4 linked regions of the Homo sapiens genome follow. The protein of the gene in region 1 interacts with the protein of each later gene in a pairwise test. Each region holds a gene or a part of one and is shown in the gene's direction. Other genes may lie near its edges. The genes, in order: ITM2B, TMEM59L, PROM1 and NAALADL2.

Region 1 (7,874 bases):
GTGAGGGATGTGGATGAGAAGATGACAGAGAATCAGACATGCAGAGAGGACTGCCAGGTCTCCCAGTGGGTTCCAGGGAGACTCAGCTATCCTTCCCTCTTCTTGAGTTCTGTCTTAGTCCATTCGGGCTACTATAACAAAATACCATAGACTGAGTGGCTTTAAACAACAGAAGCTTGTTTCTCACAGTTCCAGAAGCTGGAAAGTTCAAGATCAAGTCACCTGCAGATTCAGTGTCTGATGAGGTCCTCCTTCCTCACAGAAAGCTCTCTTCTCTCTGTGACCTTATATCACAGATGACTCTGGGTTCCTCTTACAAGGACACTAGTTCCATTCATGGGGGTTCCACTCTCATGACCTAACACCTCTCAAAGGCCCCATTTCCTAATACTGTCACCTTGGGGGTAAGGATTTCAACATGAATTCTGGGGGGACACAAACATTCAAACCATAGCAAGTTCCATAATGCACCCCATCATATGTGTGTGTGTGTGTATTTATTTATTTATCTAAGATAGCTCTAGTTTGCTGCTTTGCAACACATTCTGCCCCTATTGCATTGGTTTAAAAAAAAAGTACAGAAGTCAAGATGAGACTATATAAATCTTGACAAGTTGTTGGCCGTGATTGCTCTTTTGTGATGCAGGAGTGAGAATCTGGAGAATCTGGCTTAAGAGGTGGCTGAGAATTAAAATAATAGGCATGAAAATGCTTCATACAGCTCTGTACAGTTGTTGACAGTGCCTTTTTTGAAACCTATCACTGCTATATGTTAGCAAGCAAACACTGATCTTGTTTTGTAATGTGTAATTGTTCACTTCTGCTTTCCCTGTATCCCTTTTTAGATTCCACACCCATATTAGTGAGAAGCAAGAAAAAAAAATGTACACAGTGTCCTAAATGTTGTTTATCTCGAATAATAGAAGTAGGAGTGTAAAACTTAAAGGCTGATTAATAATGCAAATGAAAAGGCAAATGGATTATTGAATAGAAAAGGTCTAGATTCTATGTTTGAATGTGGTTATGAATTAATATGGGCAGAATCTCTAAGATTCTGCTAAGTGAACATTTAGTAGTTTACTAGACATCTTCTCTTCCACCTAGCAAAGAGTTTGTTGCCCAGAGTTATATAAATCCTACTCTATTGCACACTAATCTTTGCATGTTTAACTCTTTGGGACTTAGGTTCCTAGATAAGGACTTCATGTGTATCTATTTAGAAAAAGAACATTTCTTCATTTCCACAAAGCTACACAGCCATCAGTTCGTTCAATATCTTGTCCAAAGTTATTGCTAGCGTTCTTCTTTCTGAGTCTTTGTGGCTAATGCTTTTTTGAGGAAGAAGCATGATTTAGTCTCAGCTCTCTATTGATCATTTTAGGCTTTTATCTTACTGAAAAAATTAAGCACAATTTAAGATTTTTTTTGAAATATTTACTGAATTTTGAGGCCATAAATTATTTCCTGATAGCACACATGTATGGGTTGTAGATTCCACACTTTTAATCTTCCAGCCACCTATTGCAGATTGGTTCTGAGAAGCAGGATGAGTGGGAGTGGGCTTAGGGGTCAAAATTGAGACCTAAGTGGTATAAAACAAGATAATCCTAGCTTCCTCCCACTTAAAATAATTTGATGGGACTTCTGTATCTGATTTTTAAGCTTGCATTTGTGTTTATATTTTCATTGTAAAAATATCAAATAATACAGTTTTTGAAGGTAAAAAGTAAATGTTCCCGCCCTTCTACCATCCTCCTTCCTCAGTCCCATTCCCCAACAGTTTAACGTGCGATACAATAATGTGTGACACAAAATGACCTAGTTCTTGCCCTAGTGACTAAGCAGATGCAAACGCCTTCTTCTTTCCAAACAGTGTGGTCTTATCCCCGTCGCAAATGGAGGATATTTAAGAAACCCAAGCCAGAAACCCCACAGTCTTCACAGTCACTGTGTCCTCCACCTCCTAGCAGCTTCCTGCTGTTCTGCTCTAGTGGTTCTCTCTGCTTCCCCACACCCACCCGTAAGCCACAACAATCTTTCCAAAACACGAACTTGATGGTTTCATTGTCACACCCCAGCTTAAAACACTTTCCTGGCTTCCCCTGGTTCTTAGGATAAAGACCAAAATACTTAATGCTGCACAGTCCAGTCCCAACCCACTCTCCAGCTTCATCTTAATCACACCCCTCTTTGCTCCTAGTGTCCTACCACATTGCCTGACTTACTGTTTCTTGGTAAATGCTATTCTTACTTCCTGAAGATTATTTCCATCTCCTCACCCGACACCCTTCAGTTAGCTTCCACTCAACCTTCAGAATTTAGTTCAGGTGACCCTTCCTCAAGAGAAGATTTTCCTGAACCATTAGGAAAGGCTTCTCTTGTTTCTCAGTCTCATAGCATCATCTGTCTCTTTTTTGTGACTTGAATATAATTAATATTTTATATTTTGTCCTTGTTGCTTGTTTGGTTAATAGATTTCCACCACTAGACTGCTCAATACGTTAGTAGGGCACCTGACACATAGTTGCAGCTCTTATTTATTGAATGAATGAATGATTCCTTCCCGTACCACCCTAGTCTTGCCCACTGTCATTTTTATTCTGGGTATTATATTTCCCAACCAGTTGTCTGACTTTCTCCTCAGATCTCATCCCCATGGGTCTGAGTGAGTTGCCTTGAATATAAGATTCAGTGATGGTGTCCTGCTGCACTTAAGAGAAAATCCTTTTTTCAAGCCCTAAAATCCTGCCCTCACTAGACTTCTCTCACCATTTCTCTGTTTGCATCCTAGCCTTTTAGTTTTGGCCTCATATAAGCTTGCAGCCCTGCCTGAAACAGTTGTCTCTGTCCCCACTCTACCCCCTGCCCTCCACAAAGAAAAGTTAACTCTTACTCATCTTTCAGATCTCAGACTAAAAGTTTCCTCAGAGATGCCACCATAGCTCTCTATTTCTCATACCTTTCATGATACTTCATCACCTGTCTTCATGAAGTCCTCCTCTAGACTATTAGCAAAATGCTCATACTGTGTCCTCAGTATTTGGCACATAATAGGTTTTCTTGACACTGAAGGAAGGAATAAACATCTGGTAACTATAGCTAGAAAAAAAGGAAATACGGTATCTACTTCACTAAAACCAAAGGGGGTTTTTTTGGGCAGACAATCTTCATTATTCAGATGGAAATTAATGTTTGTTGAATGAATGAGCTACATTTCATGGATTAACTCCATGAAATGGAGTTCAGCTAGTAAGGGTTATACTTTGAGGCTATTTCATCTTGATGGGCTTGTTGTTCAAAGTTAGAGCCTCATTTTAAGTAAAATGTTCTGTGGGGGCCATATTAAGATTTTCATATGACAGAAGTGTATATATATCCACAAATGTTTCAAGCCAAGATTATGTCTTCTTCCATAATGCCACCTTCTTCTAGGATAGTATTTTTGGGCCAGATGGTTTTCCACATTTAAAACATACCAACATTCTTTTAAGGCCCAGTGATTATCAAAAGGGATTGGCACTACATTTTAAAATGTAGGGGGGATTTTTGATTGTCACAGGACTAGAGGATGCCATTTGTATTTAGTAGATGAGGCCAGGCAGGATGCTAAATGTCTTAAAAGTCCGGGAGTCCTGCACAAAAAATTACTGCCCTTCTTGATTTGCCAATTATGCCCCTGCTGGGAAGCATGAAAGGAGAGAGAAGAGCTTTCAGAATGTCAGGGATAAATATATCCATTAAGCCTTCAGACTAAGATGCAGGAATAGTTTTCCATTTGGGTATGAATACGGCAAGTTCTTAGAACATTTCTTAAAACATAATTAGCCAAATACTAGTGTAACAGCTACAACTTATCTAGTTTTAATCAACTCCAGGGAACATTACACTTTATTTAACCCCTAATTATCTGATAACCCAAGTTCTGTCAGAAACACTGCTGAGGCATCCAGGAAGATGAGCCTGTGAAATTTGAGAATCCTTCATGTCTCTGGAATGAGTCCCTAGATTCTAGCCCTGCAGCTAGCTGACACTCTAAAAAATTATGAGTGCCTTCCTTTAGCTCCCCATAGAAATGTCTTTGTATAACCATGGCATGATATTATTCTCTTGACTTTTGTTGAGGATTGATAGAAATAAAAATGAGCCAGAAATGTTTCTTCAGCTTTTGTAAAGTGCTGTTAAAAGCATTATGTCATATCTAGTACTTCTTATCTAAGTATTTTAAAATTTAGTGTTAGGAAAATTTTTTTCACATAGGATACATGTTAATATTAGGTAGTACATCTAAAGAATTCATTTGCTTCCCTTTTGCCTTGGTTGCTGGGAAACTCAGAGCCAAACTCGGTGCTTAGATTAATTACTTTCAGCCTAGGTTTTTCTGTATATCACCCTTTCGGTAGGGCTTGAAGTAACCCTTCAGTTTGCTCATATTTTGTTGTGAGTTTTATAGATAGTTTACATGCAACGAAATGCATATATCTTAAGTGTTCAACTCAGTGAGTTTTGACACTTTTCTTTGTCCATGTTAACAATCATCAAAACATTTTCATTGCCCCAGAAAATACCATTGTGCTCCTTTCCGGCAAATATTCCTTCCCTCTGCTAAAACTACTTTTTCATTTCTATGACCATAGTTCAGTTTTTGGCTATTCTTGAACTTTATTTGAATGGAATCGTACATATATAATCTTTTTGTTTGGCTTTTAAAACTCAGTATAACGTTTTGACATTTGTCCATGTTGTTGCATGACTCAGCAGTTCTTTCTTTTCAGTTGCTGTGTAGTAGTCCATTTCTTTTGGTTTTGTGTGTGTGTGTGTGCTTTTTAAATTTATTTTTTATTTTTTTTTTTTTGAGACAGAGTCTGGCTCTGTCAACTCAGGCTGGAGTGCAGTGGCATCATCTCGGCTCACTGCAATTTCTGTCTCCCAGGCTCAAGCCATCCTCTAACCTCAGCCTCCCGAGTAGCTAAGACTCTACAGGCGTATGCCACCATACCTAGTTTGTTTTTGTTATTTTTTTTAGTACAGATGGGGTTTTGCCATGTTGTCCAGGCTGGTCTCGAACTCCTGGGCTCAAAGCAATCCACCCTCCTCGGCCTCCCAAAGTGCTAGGATTACAAGTGTGAGGCACTGTGCCCTGCCAGTATTCCATTTTTTGTGTATACCACAATTTATCATTTTTTTCTGTGTAGGTATTTTCATTGTTTCCAAGTTGGGAAGTATGAATAAAGTTGCTATGAACATGCATGTACAAGTCTTTGTAGATAGCTCATGTTTTAAAAAGTGTTTGTTTAATGATTTCATTGCAAAATCATCTTTATTGTAAACATATCTTTTTGAGGGTAGATTGGTAAAATATACATAATAAATACATGACAATGCAGGAGTCCAAGTATTATTAGGTTTACAGTCATAACAAACACCAAGAACCATTTATAAATTTCAGTTTCTCATTGTTTTAGAATGGAAGGTCTAACCAAATATGTAATGTATCCCTTCAAGTAAACTAGTATAACTTGGGTACCTTCTCATATAAATTCCCCTTAAGGCATACGTTGCTGTCTTTTCCAAATTCCCATTTTGCTTGTCCAATAGGCATTATCAGATACAACATGTTCAAAGGCAAACTTGATTTTCCTCCCATGGTTTCCTCATCTCAGCTCCTTTTTTTTTCCAGTTGCACAGGCTAAAAATAGGAAGTCATTCTAGATTCCTCTCTTTTTCATAAACCTCACATCAAATCCATCAGCCAATCTGGTGTGCTCTACCTTCAAGATACGGATTATCCAGAATTCAGCCGCTTCTCACTGTCTCTACTGCTAACATAGTAGTCAAAGCTGCTATCATCTCTTGCTTGGATTGGTGCAATGGCCTCACAACTGATCTTCCTGCTTCCATACTTGACCCCTAGAGCCTCTTCTAAACAGAGTAGCTAGAGCGATCTTTTCTAAATCTAAGCCACATCATGTCACTCCCCTGCTCAAATCCCAACATTTTATTCAGAATAAAAGTCGAACAATGCCCTACCTGTAGGTAATCTAGGCCTCCAAAGCTCTTCTTACATCACCTCCTGTAACTCTCCCCCTTTCTCACTCCTCTACAGCCACACAGCTGCCTCACTTTCCTTTGAACGTACCAAGGGCAATCCTGCTTCAGAGCCTTTGCACTTGCTGTTTCTGGGCCAGGAATTCCACACCCTCCTTCCCTCACATGTATCCCAAGGCTCACTGCCTTCCTTCAGTTAAGTCTGCTGGAATGTCACTTCATTAGGTATTGCCTGATCACCTTTTCTAAAGTGAGTCTCACCTCCACCCTCAATGCTGGCAATGTCTGTCTGTAGTGTATTCTTAACAATACAGATTAGCACAATGCAGGCCAGACCATGAAGACTGTTTCAAGTTCGAGGATGGGCAAAAATAATGACTAGGACTTGGCTCAAGATTCCTCAAACAGCCAATAAACAATGCAAAGAATAAATGAGAGAGTAATTGGAGACAAGCTTTCCCTTGGCTTCCCTTCTTTTCTCACAGAGGCTTTTCCAGAAGGTGGTCATTTCCATAGCCCATGTGGAATGAGATGTCCACTAGGGCAGAGAAGCACAGAACCGTGGGCACTGCTTCCCTTCCTTTAACCCTATCATATTGCTGCCCAGTGAGCAATATGGTCATTGGTCAAGAAGGCTTATGCCCAGGTATCCCTGTGGCTATGAGCATTGCTCCTTATCTATGCCTCTGCTCTTAGACTTTTCCATTCTGCCCTCTTAGGGGCCTTCCTGGCCATGACCACACTACCTTATTTTTCTCTATAGTACTTATCACCATCTGACATGTATTTATGTTTGTATTTGTTTATTGTCTGTCTCTACAAATAAAATGTAAATTCCCTAAAAACAGAGACTTTATTATTTTTGTTCATGTTACATCCTCAGCACCTAGTAAAGCACCTGGCACGTATTAGGAACTCACTAAATATTTACTGAATGAACTTTGTTCAATAAATTTAACATGGTTCTATGTAGCCTCCTTTTTAAAAATTGGCTCTGTTATATAGACTTCAGGGGCAACTGATAACAAACAAAACCAAACTTGGCTTTTTTCCCTTTTTTTTTTCTTTAATTGTAGTTTCAGAATTTCATCTGGGAGTGGGAATGGCCACAGGAATGCAAGTTCTGTACACCTCAGATTTGGTGCTAGTGATGTTGCCATGTTAAGAAAGTGAGCTGGGCCTTGTGCCTTCAGTAGACAGAATCAAAATCTATTACTTTATTTTAATACCCGAAGTTCAAATTACCTCTTAGGTAGGGATCCCTTAAATGTGATAGTGCTGAATCACAATGGAGGAAAAAAATGGCAAAGAGTATATTGAAATTCAGACTGATTCACAGGTAAAAGGCCTCTTGGAGACAACACTCTGAGAAAGGGACTGCTTTTTTAAAAAATCTGCATGTTTTGGGGTCGAATGGGTTTGGATAGTAGAGACACAAAATGGAAATGGTAGCTGCTTCTCATTGATTCATTTTAATGTAATTTTTAAATTTTAATTTTTTTTTTTTTTTGAGACGGAGTCTCTCTGTCGCCCAGGCTGGAGTGCACTGGCGTGATCTTGGCTCACTGCAACCTCTGCCTCCCAGGTTCAAGCAATTCTCCTGCCTCAGCCTCCCAAGTAGCTGGGACTACAGGTGCCCGCCACTACACCCGGCTAATTTTTGTATTTTTAGTAGAGATGAGGTTTCATCATATTGGCCAGGCTGGTCTCGAATCCCTGACCTTGTGATCCACTCGCCTCGACCTCTCAAAGTGCTGGGATTACAGGCGTAAGCCACTGCGCCCAGCCAAATTTTTAAATTAAAAAAATATATATATTTATGTTTTTAT
Region 2 (8,988 bases), on another chromosome or scaffold:
GGAGAGCGGTAAGAAGCTCTTTCCCCGGGACCTATTCACACCCCGCCACGGAAAAATCCACTCAGCGGCCCGCGGGTGGGGTGCGCCACGCGGTGAGTAATCGCTTCGGCGGCCACCGCCCGCCGACTCCAGGTAACGCCGGCTGCCCGGAGCGACGCATAGTTTGTCTTCCTTCTTTTGCGCAAAGAGCCTTCTCCGTGTTATTATTTTTGGCCATTGCTCGAGTTTCGGGACCCCTCCCGGTCCGGGCGTCTCATCTCCCTCCTCCCGGTCCCCACCCGATGCGGGCGCCCAGGAATAAAGGGTTCCTGGCCTCCAAGGCTGCTGCGGATGGGGGTGCCTGAAATGAGAGTTGGGGGGTGCAATTACCCACTTTTGGTCGCAGCCCCGCCCCCAGCTGCAGCGCCCAGGGAAGGGAACGGCTCCAAGTCCCCTTTTCCAGGAGTCCCTTAGAGGCCTGGATTCTCTCTCCTGGTCCCCAACCAGCCAAGGGGGTAAAAGTGTCTGAGGGGGGCTCAGGAGCCCCCATTTGTCTGCCCAAGACTGAAGCCCCACCCTCTCCTACTTAAATCTCCAGTTCAGACTCCAGACTGTCAAAAAACAAGATTGGGGGATGGGAGCCTATAGGGGCCCAGGGCGCCCCTGCTCCATCTGAATTCTGGATGGAGAAGACAGACAAGGAGAGACGCTGCCATTTACTTCGGGAAACCAGGCCTTTTGTGCCTCAGTTTCTTCCTCTGCACAGTGGGCACCACCCAGTCTAGGAGCTTCTGTGGGAAGACGCAGGGCAGCAGAAGTCTCTACAATCCAAGCCCTTAGCACAGCACTGGAGGATATCCTGGAGCAGAGGTGACCCCCAGCCCTGCTTGTCCCCTCTGAAACATGGAGCCATAGTCCCACCTGCCAGGGGACCCAGAGGGTTAAGTGGAGGTGGCAGTCCTTGGCTGGAATTGAGTTTTTAGGATACTCACCACTACTCCCCCATGGCTCCTGTCTGCAGATGCTCTCTGTGTGGATAGAGACGCCTCACTCCCTCCTGGGAGGACTTCAGGCTTCTGGAGCAAAACCTTGATTTTTTCCTCCCTCCATTTCTGCTTCTCTTCCAGTCATTTTGGTTTTGGGAAAGGGCTCTCCCATCCATCCAGGTGCTCAGGCCAGAGACCTGGAAGCGCACGTGACAACTCTCTCCTTTGCTCATCCCTCATGTCCAATTCATCAGCAAATCCTGTTGGCTCTGATTCTAAAACACATCTCCATTCTGAGATGCTGACCCCTTTTTCCCACCCCATTCAGATCCAGGCCCCACGGTCTCCCTCAGGGATGCTTCCCGGCCTCCTCCAGGGCCTCCCTGATAACCCTTCTGCCTTTCTCGGCACACCAGGCAGAGGGAGCTTTTAAAAGAAGAAAAAGCAGATCTTTGTCCTGCCACCCTCTCGCCATCCTCTCCCCTCCTCTTCTTCCCTCTCCTCTTCCCCCTCCTCTCCCTCATTCCGCCCCAGCCACTGGAGCCCTGTTTCCCAAAACATACCAGGCTTGTTACTATAGAAGGGCCTCTGCGTGTTGGCTGTTCCCTCTGCTGGAATGCTGTTCCCCACATCTTCCCCAGTTGGCCCTTTCTCTTCCATCACTTCACAGGATTAGTGCCACCTCCTCAGAGAGGCCCTCCACCCTTCCCCCAGCACTCTCCCTCTCCTTCACTTTGTTTTATTGTTTTTGAAACACAACTCTTCCAACCATTTCATTTCTTGTGCAACTGATTTTCTTTAGACTGTGGGCAGCCTCAGCCCCTTTGGACCCCAGTGGTGGGCCCAGTGAGGGCTGAAAGCGAAGCACTCACTAAATATTTGTAAAAGTAAAGGATGGAGAACTCTTACTCCCTCCAAGTAGCAAGAAAACTCAGTCCTAGCAAGTCATGCTGCCTGGGGTCCTAGCCTGGCCCACACTCTGTGTCTTGCTGTGTGACCCTAGCCAGTAGACATCCCTCTCTTGTTCTTACCAACAGAAGGGAAGGACCATTTTCCAATCCTGCCCAGCCCCACCCTGGAGTGTGACTTCTGCCCTTGGGTGATCTTTACCCCACACCTTTGACTTCAGGGAAAGGGAATTGACCCCAGAGTGCATCCTTCCCGGCCCTTAGGGCCCCCAGAAGTTTAACCCTTTACTCCCCAGTTCCATTATCTCCTTGAGGACAAAAGGGAGCTAGCGTCAATGGAACTTCTGGCAAATATTGACCCAAGTCCTTGAAGTTGGCTGGGAATGTGTAAGGGGCAGAAGGAGGGAGGGCCTCCCCTTGGGCAGAGGGAGGGCCTCCCCTTGGGCTGGGGGAGGGACCCCTCCTTAGTCCTGCACCCTCCACTCCAAGGTCACCTCTGGATGAGAGGTATTAGGTTGGGGGGGGGGCCTCCATCCCCAGCTCCCTCGTGATTCCAGGGCACTGAGGGTGCACCAGGGAGGGGGCAGTGGAAATGGCACCTTCAGGGTCCTGTGGGGACCCACAACCACTGGGAGTGAGGAAGGCTGAGAGCTGTCTCTCCCATTCTGAAAGCCCCGTGCTCAGGGCTCCCCAGTATGGGATTAGCTACCTGGTGTTCCAGGCAGGTGCTTTCAGGAATTAAGGGGCAGTGAGGGTCTGGACACCTGGTTCAGGGTCTGTGGCACAGGAAAGTGGGGCCCGTGTGTACCTAGGCTTTATAATTTCTGCCCTGGAGGCTGAGCCTGGGGAGAAGCAATGCCTGGGTGCTCAGTGTAATGCACACTGGACTTCAGGCACTGGAGGCGGGACCTGGGGAGTTGCAGACCTGCCTAGGGGACCTGCCTGGGAAGTTGCAGGCCTGCCCCAGGGAGGCCAGTTTCCCTGCCCGTCTGTACCCTGAGAAGCCTCTGAAGTCTGGGTCCCAGGAGGCACCAGCTGCTTTAGGGGGACAGCCACATCCCTCCGTCCTCCCCCAACAACCCTCAGCAACCACCACCGGCGCCATGGTGCTCTGCCTCCTCCCTGGCCTGTACCCTGCTTGGAGGTGGGGGTCAGCAGGGTCGTGGTGAGGGCGGCAAGGGACAAAGGGTGCTTGTCCGCTGCCCGCCTTGACCTCGGCTGCTGTGGCTTCCCGGACGCCTGGCCTGCCGCTGATTCACGCCCAGGCCGGCCTCAGCGCCCCCCGCCTGCCGCCCCCAGCCAGGCCGCCCCGGGGGGTAGGAAGTGGGGGGGGGGGCGAGGGCGGCGCCGAGTCAACTTTCCCTCTTAAGCCCCGAAGGAATGTCGGCGGATTTCCTGAAACCCGACCCTGGCCGCCCGCCGGCCCTCCCGCCCCTCACCTGGACCGGCTCCCCCGGGAACAGCAGGAGGGGCGCGGGGGCTCACCTTGGGGGCCGGGGTCAAGTCCTCTTTCCGCTCACCCCCCCAGCGGCCTAGTGCAGCGGAAAGGGGGCTGGGTGTGCGGCAATCAGCCTCTTTCCCTTCTCCCCTCAGGCGACCTGGGTGATCGACCCACTCCTCCAGCCTCAGTTTCTCCTTCTGCAAAAGGGCGCGGGGTGTCCCTCCTCCCTGATGCGTTTTAAGCAATGCCCAAAGGTCACCTCCCATCATTGGCAGGGCTCTGCCGGCTTTTCTTTGCTTCTCTCCCTGTCACCTGGACAGAACCACTTTGCAGTCTGAGCATCAGTTTCCTCACCCATATAAAAGGGCAACGCTACCGGTACCTGTCTTATACGGTTGTTGCAAGAAAAAGTGTTTCGTTGGAATGAATGAAAGACAGTAATTGTGGAGGGGTTAGGCGCGCGCGGGCCTCTGGAATTAGCATGTGTGGGCTTGAATCCTGACTTTGCCAACGCGTCCCGGAGCCTAAGTTTCCCACCTGTGAAATGGGGGACAGTATTGGTCATAACGCACAGGGCTGTTTCCCAAGGTGCGGGCCTGGCGCGCGGGTGGGTTAGAAGCGGAATTCTCCTGCTGGATTCTGGCGCAAACTGCGGGCTGGAGGCCCTCGCCGCCGGGTCGCAGCGGCCTAGCATGGGAGGGGAGGGGAGGGGCGGGGCGGGGCGGGGGAGGGGCCGCACCGGGATCCAGATGTTCGGGGTCCGCCAGGCACAGCCGCGCCTGATTAAGCCACGTGGGGGCCGGCCGGGGGCCGCTGAGATGAAAGCGCGGCCGCAGGCCAGAGTAGGGGGTGCGCCGGGCCCCCACCCGGGACACCCTCTTCCCAGGCCGAAACCTGAGCCGCCCTCTAACCCGCAGACCCTGCGAGGCTGCCGCCCCGTCTGCGGGGGCGGAGCGTAGGTGGGGGACCTGCGGGCTGCTGCGCGGCGCTGCAGGCACCTGCGCCAGGCATGCCAGCGAAAGCGGGGGCATCTTTGCAGAGGATCCGGGTTTAGAGGGGCGTCCCCACTCCCTTATCTGGCGGAGAGGAAGCTGGGGGTACCCTCTAACCGAGATTCGGCTCCTGGGGCTACAGTCCATCGCCCTGGGGTGTGATGGTTATGGAAGTCAGAAGTGTCGCTATTTGCCCCGTTTTCCCATGAGAATTAGACATGTCAGCATCACCCCCTCCCCTTGCTCCTGAGCATACCTCTGTGTCCCCTCCCACTAAGCCCCAGCCCAGGGGTCTCCAGCCTTGGGGAGACAGGGCCAGATTCCCTAGGTCAGTGGATCAGGGCTGGGCCAGAGGGAGGCGAGGCTGAAGGAGCAAGGGAGGGGCTCAGAGGGCTTCCCGGAGGAGGCAAACTGCGCGCAAGTTGTCTCCTTTCTAACCTGGGTGTCAAAAGAGAAGATGCCAGGACTCAGCTGCCGGGTCCTGCGGCTCTCACCTTCCTCCCTCTCCGTTCCCTGGTTGGACTCCAGCCCCATCGCCCTCCCTCCTCCTGCAACAAGCTCTTTCTCTCAGGATCCTCGCTGATCCTTGTAGCCTGGACACCCCTTTCTCCTCTCTCCCGCGTGGTCGGCTCACACGTCGCCTCCTCCGCCAAGCTCTCCGCTCTCCTCGACACCCCTGGGGAATAGTCCCCTCCATCCCATCCCCCTATATATTTCCTTTTGGCCCCAAGCGCCAGCAGAGATCCCCCGCCCGTGGGCACCAGGGAGGTGTCCTGGGACCCCCGCGATGGGATAGACGGTGGGGGCCGCGATGCACCTGCCCCGCCCGACCCGCACGCCTCGGGTGCCGCAGCGCAGCTACCCCGCCCGCTCTCCGCATCTCCCACCCCCCGCTTCCCAGGCTGCCTCGCTCGGGTGACGTCAGCGCCCCGGTCCCCGCCGCAGCCGCTGCATCCTCCGTGCCCGGCCTGAGCTGGAGTCCCCCGCGCCCCCCGCGTTCCGCCCGGCCATGGCTGCGGTGGCGCTGATGCCACCGCCGCTGCTGCTGCTGCTGCTGTTGGCGTCGCCGCCCGCCGCCTCCGCGCCGTCCGCCCGCGATCCCTTCGCCCCCCAGCTCGGGGACACGCAGAACTGCCAGCTGCGGTGCCGCGACCGCGACCTCGGCCCGCAGCCCTCGCAGGTGAGGCGCGTGCGGTGCCAGGTGCCAGCGGGGGACGCGGGATCTCTCCGAAGGAGGAGGCGTTGGGATGGGCTTCTCTTGGATGACAGCAGGAGACTTTGGTGGGGGTGTCCGTGGGGAGGTGGGGGTCGGGAATGGGGAGATCTCTCCAGTAGTTGACGGGCTGGGGTTCCCTCTGATGGGGGAGTGCTTGGGGATGCAGGTCCTTGCGATAAGGGGCCGATACCACCTCCCGGGCTCCTTCCGCACTCTGCTGGGTAAGGACCCTCTAGCACCCAACCCCCAGCTCCCTCAGGCCTGATGGTCCCCCCACCTCATTCCTCCTCCTCCACATCGTGTTCCCTCCCCACTCAGAGCTACCAGCCCCTACTCATACCACCACTCCCCAGGATTCAAGCCTGATCTGCGTGTGACCAAAACCCCCTCCTCTGAGCCTCCCCCTCCTCCTCCAGGTCTGAGAATCCTTCTCCATGTCTCCCCTCCTCCCTGGAACCTAGTGGGGGGAAGGCTCATTTCTCTCCACCTTCACTGTCCATTTCTCTTCTCAAGCTCCCTCCCCATCTCCCTCCTCAGAGCTAAGAGCCCCCACTAATATTTGTAGCCTCTCCCAACTTCATCTCCATCTGGCTAGATGTCGTGGGGAGCGGGGAAGCCTTTCCCTGCCTCTGCTGAATGCTCCGGTCCCCCCACCCTCCTCCTGCCCCTCCCCATGGCCTGAGCCCCCTGTCCTCCCCTCCCCCAGGCGGGGCTGGAGGGCGCCTCCGAGTCTCCCTATGACAGAGCCGTTCTGATCAGCGCTTGCGAGCGTGGCTGCCGCCTCTTCTCCATCTGCCGATTTGTGGCCAGAAGCTCCAAGCCCAATGCCACCCAAACTGAGTGTGAAGCAGGTGAGGGCCCGCCGGCAGGGTGGGCCAGCGTGGGGAGAGGTGGCCTGGGAAGGGCCGTCCCCAGTCACCCGCTCCCACCTCCCACAGCCTGCGTGGAAGCCTATGTGAAGGAGGCAGAGCAGCAGGCCTGTAGCCACGGCTGCTGGAGCCAGCCCGCGGAGCCTGAGCCGGAGCAGAAGGTGGGCCTCCCACTGCGGCCTGGGGTCCCTTTTCCCAATACCCCCACCCTCTTCACCCCGTGGGAAATCTTCATTCACGTGCAGAGGCTCTGCCAGACTCTGCGTTCTATACCAGGCCTGCAGGGCAACCTCCATCCAGCCCCGTCATGTCTCCAGCCTTAGTTACATGCAACAACGCCCCCCATGCCCCACCACCTTTTCAGGAATAAGTGGCAGAAAACAGCCATCATTTATCAAACATCTGTCCTGGTTCGGGCCTGACTTCAACCTGTCCCAAATGTTTTTGTGTCACTTGGAGGCACAAAGGACAATGTCACCCCCATTTAGTGCCCAGGGGGCAACCTCCCAGGTCATACACAGGGCTGTGCAAGGGGCGAGATTTGAAGCCACCAGAGCTGTGGCCACTCCTCACCTCACTCCTCTTAGGCGCCCCCAGAGCTGCCAGGTGCTGGTCTAAGCCCTTCCCCTGTGATGAGCTGGTGGTCACTGTCACCTGGAGGGGCTCAGAACTGCGGCTCAGGGTAGAGCAGGCTTGCCTCGCAAGCACGCACACACTGCCTTATGGGAGAAATAATAACGGTTCATCTATTGTAGTCCAAGCAATGCTGCATCATGGGGAAACTGAGGCACAGAAAATCATGTAGCATAGCCAGAGACCTAGGGGCTGGGACTCCCCAGAAAGCCCTTTCCCCACTTCCCCCATTTTCCTCCACCCCTTCCCAGCTTTCACTGCTGTTCAGAAAAGCTCACTGCACTGTCAGCCCTTCCAATTCAGAGCTCCCTCTTATTTATTTATTTATTTTTTGAGATGAAGTCTTGCTCTGTTGCCTAGCCTGGAGTGCAGTGGTACAATCTTGGCTCACTGCAGCCTCCGCCTCCCGGGTTCAAGTGGTTCTCCTGCCTCAGCCTCCTTTGTAGGTGAGATTACAGGCACCCCCCACTACAATCGGCTAATTTTTGTATTTTTAGGAGAGACAGGGTTTCATCATGTTGGCCAGGCTGATCTTGAACTCCTGACCTCAAGTGATCTTCCCACGTCGGCCTCCCAAAGTGCTGGGATTACAGGCATGAGCCACCATGGCCGGCCATCAGACCTCCGTCTTGACGCTGTCAAAATAAGAATAATGAGGATGATGATATTTTTAGTAATAGGGACTACTACGCATTAAGTGCCTGTGCCGTGCCAGGCACCTGGCAGGCATCCTCTAGTTGAAATTTCATGGCTACTCCATGAAGGAAGAGAACGATACCCATTTTAGGGCTCAGAGAGCACAATCCACTTCCCTAAGGGTACACAGGAAGCCAACTGCCACGCTGAGATCTGTGTTCACTATAAGAAGTCCTATTGGCCCAAATCACTTAGCCACATCCAATCCAAGTGAATTCTCCTAGCTCCTCTCCTGTTAGTTTATTTATTCATTTATTTATTTGAGATGGAGTCTCACTCTTTCACCCAGGCTAGAGTTCAGTGGTGTGATCTTGGCTCACTGCAACCTCTGCCTCCTGGGTTCAAGCAAATCTCCTGCCTCAGCCTCTGGAGTAGCTGAGATTCCAGGCGTGCGCCATCATGCCTGGCTAATTTTTGTATTTTTAGTAGAGACAGGGTTTCACGATGTTGTCCAGGCTGGTCTCAAACTTCTGGCCTCAAGTGATCGGCCTGCCTCAGCCTTCCAAAGTGTTGGGATTACAGGCGTGAGCCACCACATCCTGCCCCCTCCCATTCATTGGTTAATGCCCTATTTCGGTGCCATCTTTGTGTCTTGGACCTTTTTTCACCAGAGAAAGGTCCTGGAGGCTCCAAGTGGGGCCCTCTCCCTCTTGGACTTGTTTTCCACCCTCTGCAATGACCTTGTCAACTCAGCCCAGGGATTTGTCTCCTCCACCTGGACATACTACTTGCAGACTGACAATGGGAAAGTGGTGGTGTTTCAGGTGAGACCTCTGACAGGGGCCACGCCAGAGTGGCAGATGGGTGGGCAGGGTAAGAAGATGGGATGCATTGGCTCTTAGCTCATGAGATGCAAAGTCCACAGTGGGCGAGCTTCAGGCACAGCTGGATCCAGGGGCTCAGTGTCTCACTCCATGCCTTGACTCTGCTTTCTTTTGTGGTGGCTTCATTCCCAGGCATTTACTTCTTCTTGGCAGTAAGGTGGATGCCAGAGGCTCTAGGTTACAAACGCTGTGGTTTTTTTTTGTTGTTGTTGTTGTTGTTTTGAGATGGACTCCCATTCTTGTTGCCCAAGATGGAGTGCAATGGCATGATCTTAGCTCACTGCAACCTCCACCTCCCAGGTTCAAGTGATTCTCCTGCTTCAGCCTCCTGAGTAGCTGGGATTACAGGCGGCCACCACCACACCCACCTAATTTTTGTATTTTTAGTGGAGACGGGGTTTCGCCATGTTGGCCAGGCTGGTCTCGAACTCCTGACCTCAGGTG
Region 3 (8,222 bases), on another chromosome or scaffold:
ATAGGCAGTGTGCAGAAAGTAGCAGCCTAGGGACAGTTTTGTAGTCTTATTTATAACCGCTTTCAATGGAATGCTAATTAAGTGGCAGGTTGTTCAGAAATAGCTAGAAAATGAGTGGTAACTTCCCAGTGTTGCCATGGCAATGGTTAGCTGTCATGGCGCTGGCGGGCATGCCTTATGGTGATGGACAGGGAGAGGTGCTTTGGGCTCCTCTTTCTGGTTTCCGCCAGTCTTCAGTCTGGTCCGGAGTCCCACCTGCCTTCTATCTCAAGATGACTGCAGCCTTCCACCCTCTGCTCTGAGTGCGGGCACCCTCACTACTTTAGCTCTGGATCTGTTTCCACCTCTGTCAACCCCTCCACTTCTAAACACACCCGCCCATGCACACAGGTTGTTTTCCTGCTGTGTAGGGAATAGTACCTGGGGCTGTGGGAGGAAGATTTCATGTGTTGCTTTGAGTTACCAATAGTAAGTGATGAGGGAAGGCAGAGGTACCACCCCAGCCCCATAAGCTTCCCCTTTCAACTCCTCTGCTGGTTGGTGACTACTTGGCCTTAACTGGCCCCGTCCAAGAAGCAGCACGCCATGGTGACGAGGAACCTGGGCTCTTGAAGAAGACCTGGGTCTAAGTCTTGACTCGGTATAGGAGCTTAGGCAAGTTATTTCTCCCTTCTGCCTTAGTTTCCTCATCTGTAAAATGGGGTAATGGTATCTACCTTATAGGATTGTTATTCATTAATAAATTAAACATTCATTGAGTGTGGGTTAAATAAAAATTTCTCTATGGGTCCTTGGTTTTCTCACCTGTAAAATGGGAAACTGAGAGTGGCTGTATCATGGTGAGGTGGAGAGAACACAGTCTCTGGCACTCAGGAAGGGCTCTTGGGTGTGGGTTATTGCTGAGAGTCCATGGTTCTGTGCTTTGAAGGAGGGTGTCTTGGCACTATCCCTCACACCAGCCCCCATGCCCACTCACAGCCATCATTGCATGCTTATGTCATGGCAGCCCTCCTGGCTACACAGGGCCCCTGAGGATAGCGAGAGTGCTTTGAGTCTGGAAAGATGGTATTGATCTTTGTTTTTTATTCTTTTTGTAGCCCCCAGGAAATTTGAGGAACTCCCTGAAAAGAGATGCACAAACTATTAAAACAATTCACCAGCAACGAGTCCTTCCTATAGAACAATCACTGGTAACAGTCAACGACGTATTGTATTTCACTGTGACCTGAGCAAAATCTACTGCAGCTAGTTGGCTTTCATTTAGCCTCACGACACATGCTCATCTCTCATAGGTCCCAGCTGACTGGCTTCAGCCCCAGAAGTTGAGCTGGCCTTTAGACAAAATAATTGCACCTCCCTCTGCTGCTTATTCCCTTCCGTTTTTCATTTGAGTGTGAACAGTTAGATAAAATCTGTGGCTGTCTCTTCCACCTTGCTCTAGTTTCCATTGCTGTGAGCAGGCCCTCCTATGCCCCGCATTTAGCTACAATGCTGTGGACTCACTTGATTCTTTTTCTCCGAGCTTTGTCTAGAAATATGTGAAGGTGAGGTTAAGTGCTTCTCTGTGTAGATCCACTTAGCCCTGTCTGCTGTCTCGATGGGCGTTGCTTCGTCTCTCCTCTCTTCCATCCTTTCCATTTGCTTCTCACCACCTTCTGGCTTCTTTTCTTAATGCAATAAAGGCAGTTTCTAACAAAGAAAGAATGTGGGCTTTGGAGTTAGACAGACCTGGTTTTAAATTCTGCTTCTGGCTCTCCAAACTATTGTAGCTTCTCAGTTTCCTCATCTAAAAATGTTGGGATCAATAACTGCCTTGCTCTTACCTGTTCATGGAAATGAAGGACCTGACCTCAGAGGATCTCAGTAAAGAGGAGGAATTATTATATTATGCTTGTGTGTGGGCCGTATTTGTAGCCATCAAGGAGAGAAGTGTGTGGAAACTGGGTTACTGAATCAGCTTGCTCAGGTTTGGACAAGCAAGTAAATCCACTTAGCCCCAACATCCAAACATCCGAACATCCCAACCACTAAACTTCCCAGAACTAATTTCCAATACTCTTTTTTTCTCTCTCGATTTCCTAATTTATTAGATTATTCACAAAGTCCTGTCACTGAATTTTCTTAATTTGTGTCCAGTGCTATTTACAATTTTCTGTAACTGGTTTATGCCTAACACAAATTTGTTAACATTTTAAGCTGGTTTTGCATTTTTTTAAATGCTTTTTTCCCAAGTACACAGGACCCTTTGGCCTTTTCAGAGCTAGGGCAACCTGTCCACAAATAGGCAGAGTGCTTCCTACCTGAGACCTATGATCTAAACCAGGGGTTGGCAAACTAGGGACCCTGCAAACTACAGCCTGCAGGCTAAATTCAGCCTACCAGCAGTTTTTGTAAATAAAATTGTATTGGAATATGGCCACACCCACTCATTTGCAAACTCTCTGTGGCTGCTTTTGATTACAAGGACAAAGTTGAGTAGTTGGGACTATGGCAGATAAAACCTAAAGTGTTTACTCTGGTGTTTTACAGATAAAGTTTGTCAACCTCCTGTCTAAACCATTCAGGTTAACCACTCTTGCGGGGCAGGCTCTGCTTTAAATAATGCCTTCCACTTTGATCAAACCTAATTCAAAGGGATTTCTTGGATGCCTCACATGTGATTTGCTGTTCTTCACAGCTTTAGGATATGTATCCAATGTTTTCTTCAGGTTTTCTTACACCAGAGGCATAGAAAGTACACATTGTTGGCCAGGCGCGGTGGCTCACACCTGTAATCCCAGCACTTTGGGAGGCCGAGGCGGGTGGATCACCAGGTCAGGAGATCGAGACCATCTTGGCTAACACGGTGAAACCCCGTCTCTACTAAAAATACAAAAAATTAGCCGGGCGTGGTGGAGGACGCCTGTAGTCCCAGCTACTCAGGAGGCTGAGGCAGGAGAATGGCGTGAACCCAGGAGGCGGAGCTTGCAGTGAGCTGAGATCGTGCCACTGCACTCCAGCCTGGGTGACAGAGCGAGACTCCATCTCAAAAAAAAAAAAAAAAAGAAAGTACACATTGTTAATTGTGTTGGTTATTTTTTCTAGAATGAAACCATTACAGTGTAAAGACAGATTTGATGGCTATCTTGTGGGAAGGGAGGACACAAGGTATGTGATCTTGCTGCTTCATGTAATAATTTTGGAAATATTATCTGTTTCTTGCCAGAGCACTCTATACCAAAGCGTCAAGATACTTCAACGCACAGGGAATGGATTGTTGGTAAGGGTTTACTTTGTTTTCTGTCATGGGGTTTTGTTATAAAATACCACACAAAGAATGCTAGAAATGTGGATTTTTGTAGGTACTTTAAGTTGAAAAAAAAAGCCTCAGTTATCTACCTATTTTAAATAGCAAATTGGGCTTTCCTACTATTTCCTTTCTACAAGTACTTCTCTAAGTGCAGACCTCATCTTAGCAGGCTATTAGATACATAGGTGAAATCTATGTTTTGATGTGTAGGATGCAAGCTTGGAAGGTACATTGGTCCCTTTCACAGAGATAATGCTGCCTAACACACAATCCCAAACCTCAGTGCCTTCTAAGTATAAATGTTCATTTTCCCTGCTGGTTTGACAGCAGGCTTCTCTACACATCTTCCCATTGAGAGACCCGGCCTGAAGGAGCAGCTCCTGTCTGGGGCACCTCATGTCCTCATAGTGGAGGACAGGAGTTCAGGGGATGAGTGGAGGCACAGGTTGTCCTTTAAGCTCAGAATGGGCACCCTGCCCCTTCACCAGCGTTCCATTGGCCAAAGCAAGTCACATGGTCACACACATCGTCGTCTGGCTGGGGAAGTATACTCCACGCTCTGGGAAGCCATCCAAGGAGCATATCAATAATCCTGAACAGCTAATGCAATCTACCTACCACAGGGGCCATGTGTGGGCTGCAAGCATTCCCTCAGCAGACACAGAGCTGCAAGGCTGGGTTGTATTCATCTTGTATCTACAGTACCAATGGGCAACTCAGAAGATATTTTTTCATTGAACGGAATAGTCTGTACATGACAGGTTTTGGGTATCAGCCCCACAGGATAAAACTAAATGTTCCTCCTTCCACTTTTCTCAGTGAGACCAACATCATGGCTCAGCTCCTTTGAAGATGTTTAGATTTACTCTGCTCCAGGACCCTCGCTATGCCTCTGATCACAGTTGCCATTTCATAGGTGTGTGTCTCATGCCAGGGGAACCTGGAAACACACCAGTGACTACGTGCAGGTGCTTTGCTACCTCTGTGAACAGGGCGAGGGTGTGCAGTGGTGCAAGGCCTTTCATGAGGGGCCCAGCCAAGGGGGTTAGTCGAGGGCAGAAACTGGCCATTGACTGAGTTGCCAGGCTCTGTGCCCTGAGGTCCCTGGGCAGAAAAGGCCCCATTTCCAATTTGCACCAAGCTGCCATGTGGGTTGGCAGAGGACTCGTCTTTGCTTGTGTTGTAGTGCAAAGACTATGGGTTTTGTAGTGAAAAAAAAAAAAGTTCGGTGCAAATCCCAGCATTGTCGTATGTTTCCCCAGCATGGTGACCGTGAAGAGGCTGAGCTGCCTCATTTGTGAAGGGAACCTAACAAACAGTACCTTCCTTCCTGCCTCGTTGTGAGTTTCCAGCAAGTCCAGCAAGGCCATTCCTATCAAGGACTAGCCCAGTGTCTGGGCTAGAGTAAATGCTCACTTTCAGCTCATCTCCTTCCCTGCCCTCAGGGGCCTGGGTGGGTTCTGTCTTCCTCTTAACTAGCAGGTCCAGGTCGTGGTGTTGCAGAGCTGAGTTACAGTACTTGAATCAATATGCAAATTGTCTAATTAAAACTTTCTATGACTTGATACCCTGATAACTGTGGCTGTGTCTTTCAGGAGAGAGTAACTAGGATTCTAGCTTCTCTGGATTTTGCTCAGAACTTCATCACAAACAATACTTCCTCTGTTATTATTGAGGTGAGCCTTCTTTTTTAAAGTAAGCGTGTCCATAAGTGGGCACTTGAATGTTACAGATTAAATATTTATAATGTTTAAGTATGCTGTCATCATTTTAATGCTTCTACTCATCTTTTGTTTCTTTCCAGGAAACTAAGAAGTATGGGAGAACAATAATAGGATATTTTGAACATTATCTGCAGTGGATCGAGTTCTCTGTAAGTAGTTTATCTTTTATGAATGTTAAGGGGGGTCAAGTTTCAGGATAGCCATTTTCTAGGGTAAAATCTGGAAGAAATAAAATTAAATTTCCCATAATTTGGTAGGAAGTAAGTGAAAGGACATTGATGTGCAGGACCAAGACTTCTGGGGCTTCCCACCAGGTCAGAGGACAGCCACCTCCTGGTCCCCTTTGCTCACCTTTGCCATATGCAGTTCTTCCATTTGCTTCCCACCCCCTTTTTCAGGTAACAAAGGGGCCAGGTAACAAATTTGAACTAAAACACTATGCTGGGCACGAGAACTTTTTAATTCTCTCAGAGTCCTGTAGGCTGGGTCTCACTGTTCCAAAACAAATGAGGAAACTGGAAACCGAGGCTCAGAGAGAATAAGGATCTTGCTTTAAAATATATACAATTGTCCCTCAGTATCCATGGGTTATTCGTTCCAGAGTCCCCTGCAGATACCAAAATCCTTGGGTGCTCAAGTCCCTTATATAAAAGATATAGTTATTTGCACATAACCTATGCACATCCTCCTGTGTGCTTTAAATCTCTCTAGATTACTTATAATACCTAATACAATGTACATGCTATGTAAATAGTTGGTATACTGTATTAAAAAAAGTCTGTACATGTTCAGTAAAGGTACAACTATCCATTGTTTTCTGAATATGTTTTAATCTATGATTGGTTGAATCCATGGATGCAGAATTCAGGGATATGGAGGGCCGACTGTAACTGTATATGCAGAACTCATCCATGCACATCAGCCGTCAGTTCCATGTCTTAGAGCAGCAGTCCCCAGCCTTTTTGGCACCAGGGACTGGTTTAGTGGAAGACAGTTTTTCCACAGGCCGGGGGTGGAGGTAGTTTCAGGATGATTCAAGGGCATTACATTTATAGTGCACTTTATTTCTATTATTAATACATTGTAATATATAATGAAATAATTATGCAATTCACCACAGTGTAGAATCAGTGGGAGTAATGGGAGACAGTGACAGATCATCAGGCATTAGATTCTCATAAGGAGCACAATTGAGATTCCTCGCATGTGCAGTTCCACAATAGGGTTCATGCTCCTATGAGAATCTAATGCTGCTGCTGCTCTGACAGGAGGTGGAGCTCAGGCAGTAACATAAGAGATGAGGAGCAGCTGTAAATACAGGTGAAGCTTTGCTTGCTCACCCGCCCCTCACTTCCTGCTGTGGAGCCCAGTTCCTAACAGGCTGTGGACCGGTACTAGCTGGTATCCATCTGTGACCCAGGAGTTGGGGACCCCTGTCTTAGAGGACATGGAGATCCTTTTTGTGACACCAAGTCAAAAGTAAATGGCACGTCTCATTCCTTTGGGTTTTTGTGGATGCAGCTCAAAGTTTCCCTGTGTTTCCACCCCCCTAGATCAGTGAGAAAGTGGCATCGTGCAAACCTGTGGCCACCGCTCTAGATACTGCTGTTGATGTCTTTCTGTGTAGCTACATTATCGACCCCTTGGTAAGATTTCATCTTTCAAAAGAAGACACAATGAATCCATCATCTTTGGTTGTTTTTCTGGATTATGATATACATTATAATATTTGTTTTCTGCTTGAGAGAATCCAAAACCTAAAATGTAATATTTTGATCAGTGTATTGAGATGCTAATAGACTAGAAAAGTCAAAGTTCTGGGCGGTTGTCTTCTTTCCTCACTAGGATTATATTTATGAGTCAGGAGACCTGCAGGGAGAAAACTCCTGTTAGTTCAGAATAATCAGAAAGACAGTCACGGGTGTGCAGATTTCTCATCTTCAAAAGAATACTCAGTACAACTACATTTACAACCCCAAAGTTGCATCAAATTTCATTTGTCATTAAAAAGCCCTTAGAAATGTGACTATTGGGATGGTAAGTTCCAGTTAGTCAGGCTTAATCCTCAGCTCTGTTCCCTCCTCAACAGATGCTGACTCTCTCTGTGAGTGGATCCTCTCCCTCTGCTGAAAGCACCTCAGTGGCTTCCCATTGCTATCTAAAGATCAGGATTCCTCATAGCCCATACTAGGCTCTGCATGGCTGAGCCTCCCCATTCCAGATCTCACTGTGTGCTCTCTGCCTGCCCGCCTTTCTTTCTGTGCTCCAGACATACTCATCTTCTTTCACTTCATCAAATAAATCTCAATTTCCCCACCTTAGGGCCCATGCACATGCCGTTTCTTCTGCCTGGACTGGAGATGGGCACACGCCGCCTTTCTCTTTCTCTCTCCTCTTCCGCTTCCCACCTACCCACTCCCCACTTTAAGACCTAACTCCTCCAGGTCTGGTAACACAATGGTGGAGAACATCAACTCTGAATGAAAATTCCACTTCTACATTTTCAGAACTCTGTGACTTTGAAAAATTCCTGAAATTTTCTGAGTTCCTCGCCTACATGGGCTGTTTTGATGATTCAGTGAGAGGTCACATGTGAAGCCCTTCACGCTGTTGGAACATCAGCACTCAATGAATATTCACTACTATTGTTGTTCCGCCTTCAGGTCTTAGCTCAAACATGTCTTTTTTCCAGGAAGCCTTTTCTGATCCCCAAAACTAGGCTGAGCTCCGTTTTCCTCATTCCTGTAGAACTCTATGCTTTTCCTTTAGAGATGTTATTGCTGTTTCAATTACATATTTATATGTTTCTTTGATTAAGACCTGTCTCTCCAGCACACTCTAGACTCTCCACTCCATGAGTCACCAGTGCATTCAAGGCTGTGTCCCTGTTGTCTGGCATAATACCTGGCACAGAGTATCACTGATGCATTGTCAGGTAGCTCTCTGGCACAGTTCATCCCTATTGCCCTGTCTGTCCACCTCCCTCGTTCACTTGTCCATCTGTCTGCTGGAGGGTCTTTCATGCCTGAGTGAAAAGGATTCTGCCTCCGACCCAACCACGCAGACCCTAGGCCCTGCTTCCTGGATGCTTCCTTCTTCTTGCAACTACTTTTCTTGTCCTGTGCTTGGTGGCCCCTGCCGCCAGCTTTGGCTGAAGCCTTCATTAGGGGAGTCCAGAGCCAACCTGCTTGATTCTGAATTGACGTCTC
Region 4 (4,937 bases), on another chromosome or scaffold:
TTTCTGGATGTCTGTTACACACACTGAAGTTTAAGAATTTCCAATCTACGTTAATCGTAGTTTCCAAGAAAACACTAATTGACATTTCTAAATAAATTGAAGAGTCATAATAACAAGAAAGACGTAAAGATTTGTTATTAATGGAATCATTATGAGAAAAGAAAAGTGGACCCATTTTATCTCTAAGAAAACAATTCAGTTGCAGCTTATATTTGTGCCTGCTACATCCCAGGCACTGGTGTTTTAGAATTTTTCCCATGTATCCTTTTTTTTTTTTTTTTTTTTTTTTAATTCCCACAACAACCCATTTCAAAATGAGAAAACTAGGTTGAGTGACTTGTCCACAGTTCCAAAGCTAATAAAAATGATGAGGCATATTTCTCTTCTGGGCCCACTGTATTCAGTTCTTTGTTCTTTACACTGAGTGCCGAAAAAAAAAATCAGACTATTTTGATTCTAGAAAGTGAGATAATTGAAAATGTTAACATATTTCTCCAAAACTGATCAGACTGTGGAGTCTGTCACTTTTTTGGTATAATAAAGGAGTTTGAAGAAACAAATGACATCATTCCTGATGATGGTAGCCCACTCCAACAAAGGCGTATATATGTAGGCAAGTTTGAAGATATCTATAAGAGCATTAAAAGGCAAGTGCACCATTGTGGAATATCATGACGAGTAGGCTTACAAACAGTAAAAAGAGACCAGAAACCACAAGTCTTACACTTTCATTCTCTAAATGCTTATATAATTTCACTAAAAAAAGAAAAGCAGGTGCTGTGATTTAGAACAACAGTTTTATGTTATTTTTAAAAATTCAGAATAACCAATTGACTTTTTAAATTAAATAAACGTAGAGCATATAGTAAGTTTCCCCACAGGAAAGACAGATGTTAACAAAAATAAAATAAATGATTATTTGTGACCATGTTACTAATGATGAATCAGCATCTTTGCCTCAAATGAAAATCTATAATTATTTGTATGATAAATTGGTAGACCTAGCCAAAAATGTTCTCATGAGACATTCTGTGATATGTGTAATTGATTACTCCAAAAATTAAGCTTTCTCTGAGGGTAACACATTGTCATCTCATTGGTTTAATGGGCTATTTAAATGTGCCTTAGCCACACATTTGCTTAATAGAAAGGAATTATTTTAAACTACCAATCCATATGTTGAGTGGAAAGGAAGTTGGCCCACATATTCCAATAAATATATCAGCAATATAACAGTTTCATCATGGGACCATGGATACAGTGCAGGGAAAAAACAAACAAACAATATTTGAGAAAATATATATATTCTGCCCAGCCACACTGGTGAGTTTTTATTTCTTGTATGAGTTTAAATTGCCAACTTAAAAAAGCCTCATTAGAATTTGCTATTCGAAAAGACCTTAAAAACCCTCACAGAGTTCTAAACATCCCATTCATTGAAAATAATTTTCAGTTAAGTAGATTTGTTTTGTGCACTTCACAACTTTTAGGTGACATGAATTTGAAGCGTAGCAAAAGAAATGTATAAAGATAGCCTTTTCTGGTCATTACCATGTCTACTCAAGTTTCTGTTTTCTAGGTACACTCTAGCATTGTAACTTTTTCCCCCTGAGAAGTAATTTTAAGATCTATCAGTCTCAATTTAAATGATCTGTTAATCAGCCAGAGTTTTAGTTTCATAATATCGTTCCATTGCCTGACAAAGATATACACACTGAAGTGCCTTTAGCAGACCTGGGACCGTCAAGAATCTTGTTACCCTGATTATTGCAAGATGACATATTTCTTAAGCCATTTATAATCTCATATTCGGGTTGAATCTGAATTTACAAATAAAAGGGTTAAATTGAGGCAGTTTCAAGCAGCATTTAGGAAAATGAAGTGGCTTCAAATTTTAGTGTTTCTGGTTACATTATTTTGTTTGAATTATACAATTACATAATTTTCTGTAACCAAAATGGTAATTTTGATGGATTTTTTAAATGCCAAAATCCAATCATCAAGGCCAAAGAAATGCATGATTACTCTGATTTCTTATGCACCATTCAGTCAAGACTTAACTCAGAGGCAGTTGATTCAGTGCTTACATCTAGACAAAGCTTTAATGAGTGCAGACCCAGCCTAACAGTATTTCATCTAATTTCTTTGATGGCTTAAGCCAATAAGCACTGAGGTAGCTTTTCTCAGAAGGAAACAGATTTTATTTTCCAGGGGCTAATTAATATGCACCACCTAAGTCCCCAAAGGATCACACAGGTGCCTGTATCATGCCATATGTCATGTGCTATATTCCTGCAAGCTCAAGAGATTAATATACAATCATTATTATGAATTATTATGTTGCATTGAAGTTAATGTCGGTCTTTTGTTCTAATTAAAGTACAAACGTGGCATCTGAATAGAAGCTTAGCTAGAGAAGTGGAGTTAGAGTCCCTATTTTAATGAACTACATATATTTTTCAATCAAAATGTGTAATTATTTAATTATCTAGCCTGCTCAGTAATCATAACTCTCCAACTTCTTCAAAGGGCCTTTATTCAATATGTTACCACTCATATGGTCATTACTTGGTAAGTGTTTTATATTTTGAATTTCTTAGATGCTTTCAGTGTATGTGCTAGTGTTTTATTAATATTAAAAATTTTTGTTTACTTATATATCAAGCTGCTGCAAATGGACTACCTTATTTTAAAAGTTAGAATAAAATGCTATTACTCTCTAAACAGAACTTTAGCATATCTGTTTGATAAGAAATACACAAACAAAATATTTTTCTATGCTATTGCAAATTGTCCGCAGGAAGCAAAATGCCAGATGGTTAAGTGTAGCTCACATAATTATATTCCAAAGGTGTTATAAACAATTCTATTTAGCATCTGAGATAGGTCTATATTAGGCAATTTCATGTTTACATTTCTAACAGAAAGGTTTAATGGCAAATATTCCTTATATTCTAACTTGCTACTTGGAGAATATGGATATTCTGAAAAGAAAAACCCTTTCTAGAACACTGTGCAGGACTAATTTTTTTTTAATAGACATCCAGAAAATAGCCTGGGCAACAAAGTGAGACCCTGTCTCTCTTAAAAAAAAAAAAAAAAAAAAAAAAAAAAGAAAAGAAAAAGTAGCTAGGCATGTTGGTGTGCACCTTTGTAGTCCAGCTACTAGGGAGGCTGAGGCGGAAGAATCATTTGGGCCCAAAAGTTTGAAGCTGCAGTGAGCTAAAATCATGCCACTGTAGTCCAGCCTGTGTAACAGAACCTATCTCAAAAAAAGGAAAAGAAAGTCACATGCTGTTGATAGTAGTTTTATATGTATTTGGAATGTTAATATGGGACACATGCATTTAATACTTTAATCATGTATTCAATGTAGCAGCATTTAGATATGTAAGATTTTAGAAGTAAAATCTCAGTGGTATAACATTTAAAACACAGCCTTAAAATGAAGAATAGGGATGAGCAGGAGAAAATTTATAAATTAACCCAGGGTAAAATTTGGAGGAAAATTTTTCCAAATAAATTTGCTTTGATTAAAAACACATATCTCTCAAGAGGTGTCCCAATTACTAAATTATGTTGAACTGTTGTGGTGTTTAGCCTTGTTCAAAATGATTTGATTATCATCTGGATTCAGAAATCTTTTCATTGTACAGAGATTTCATTGTCATTGTCGTTGTTGTTAACTGATTTTTAATGATATTGATTTAGAGGCATTTGTCGGTAGTTTTTAAATTACTATATAGGGTTGAATGTCTAATTTCTATAATGTGTGGATGCCCATCAGATATTTAGTGCATTCTATATTTAGCCCAAGTGTGATCACAATTTATTTTATAACTTTTTATGTGTTACTTACATGACTCAATATGCATCTTACTTAAGAAATTATGTTGTGATCTGGAGTGACACAAATGGATTGAGATACCACATCCATTAAAAATATAAGTGAATATTTTATATTTAAGTTGTTTAAATATTTGCACATTATTGAAAACATAGTACTAGGAAATGAAGGCACCATTTAACAAACGTGTTCTGAATCATAATTTTCATGAGTTTGTACGTGAAATGTTAATGTTTAAAACACCCATTTTGAAATTATTAAATACAGGTAAAAACATTGCTATACTGTGTTTTTATGACAAAATATACAGTATTTTATGTGTGCACATGAATTAGTTATTACTCTATTTTATTAATGAATTATTTTTACATAATATATATGACAGCCAAACAGGTGTTCACTTGTTTAGGGAAAATTCTATAATATTTTATCATCTTTTTTTGTCCTTGCCTTCCATTCTTTTCTTGAACATTTAGTTAGATTTGCAGTTTGTGACAAGTTCCATCAAGTAACAGTACCTGTATCAACTGCAATGTTAAACAGTTTTGTTTTCTCAAATTTGCTCTAAAAAATGCTCTCAGTTATTTTTCACATAGAAAAGAATTTTCTGTTTGCATGGTGAGTGTAATAGATTTCATTCATTTATTCATTCAGGAAATATTTGCTAAAAGACTCTTCTAGTCCAGGCACTGTATTAGGCACTAGTGATACAAAGATGATTAGCACAGATTAGCACAATTTTACTTTTGGAGCTTTACAGTCAAATAGGATACAACACTTCAGTTTAACTAGTAGCAATATCCATAGATAGTACAGTTTATTGCAAACATATTGGCAGAGCAGAGACGGTTTAAAGGTGCCATATGTTCAGGCCACATGCCAGTCCCACTGGACCTTCCTTAAGACTCTCTAAAGAACAGTGCTCTTTCTCTAACATCTCTGCTATACAATAGCCTGCATTTGGTACGGGCATAGCACTGTGTCAGACTCTGGTTGCCAAGCATCACTTGGATGAAATCTTTTAATCTTTAAAAAAGCCTATGAGATAGGTGTTATATCATTTTGTCCCATTTGATTGATGATAAAACTA

Evidence for each region.
Region 2: the proteins of ITM2B (region 1) and TMEM59L interact in binary tests that used the Homo sapiens proteins (3 or more experiments, as listed by UniProt).
Region 3: the proteins of ITM2B (region 1) and PROM1 interact in a protein complementation assay, tested with the Homo sapiens proteins (one study listed by IntAct).
Region 4: the proteins of ITM2B (region 1) and NAALADL2 interact in binary tests that used the Homo sapiens proteins (3 or more experiments, as listed by UniProt).

Annotation. Positions count from the first base shown.
Region 1 is NC_000013.11:48,263,468-48,271,341, forward strand, and holds the end of ITM2B (integral membrane protein 2B), read left to right. Parts: 3' UTR 1-6,890; downstream 6,891-7,874. UniProt on the Homo sapiens protein: Plays a regulatory role in the processing of the amyloid-beta A4 precursor protein (APP) and acts as an inhibitor of the amyloid-beta peptide aggregation and fibrils deposition. Plays a role in the induction of neurite outgrowth.
Region 2 is NC_000019.10:18,607,644-18,616,631, forward strand, and holds the start of TMEM59L (transmembrane protein 59-like precursor), read left to right. Parts: upstream 1-5,226; 5' UTR 5,227-5,315; coding exon 5,316-5,486; intron 5,487-6,228; coding exon 6,229-6,373; intron 6,374-6,460; coding exon 6,461-6,552; intron 6,553-8,331; coding exon 8,332-8,484; intron 8,485-8,988. UniProt on the Homo sapiens protein: Modulates the O-glycosylation and complex N-glycosylation steps occurring during the Golgi maturation of APP. Inhibits APP transport to the cell surface and further shedding.
Region 3 is NC_000004.12:15,982,700-15,990,921, reverse strand, and holds part of PROM1 (prominin-1 isoform 1 precursor), read left to right. Parts: intron 1-1,097; coding exon 1,098-1,190; intron 1,191-3,205; coding exon 3,206-3,259; intron 3,260-4,884; coding exon 4,885-4,965; intron 4,966-5,093; coding exon 5,094-5,162; intron 5,163-6,566; coding exon 6,567-6,659; intron 6,660-8,222. UniProt on the Homo sapiens protein: May play a role in cell differentiation, proliferation and apoptosis. Binds cholesterol in cholesterol-containing plasma membrane microdomains and may play a role in the organization of the apical plasma membrane in epithelial cells.
Region 4 is NC_000003.12:175,806,426-175,811,362, forward strand, and holds the end of NAALADL2 (inactive N-acetylated-alpha-linked acidic dipeptidase-like protein 2), read left to right. Parts: 3' UTR 1-4,123; downstream 4,124-4,937. UniProt on the Homo sapiens protein: May be catalytically inactive.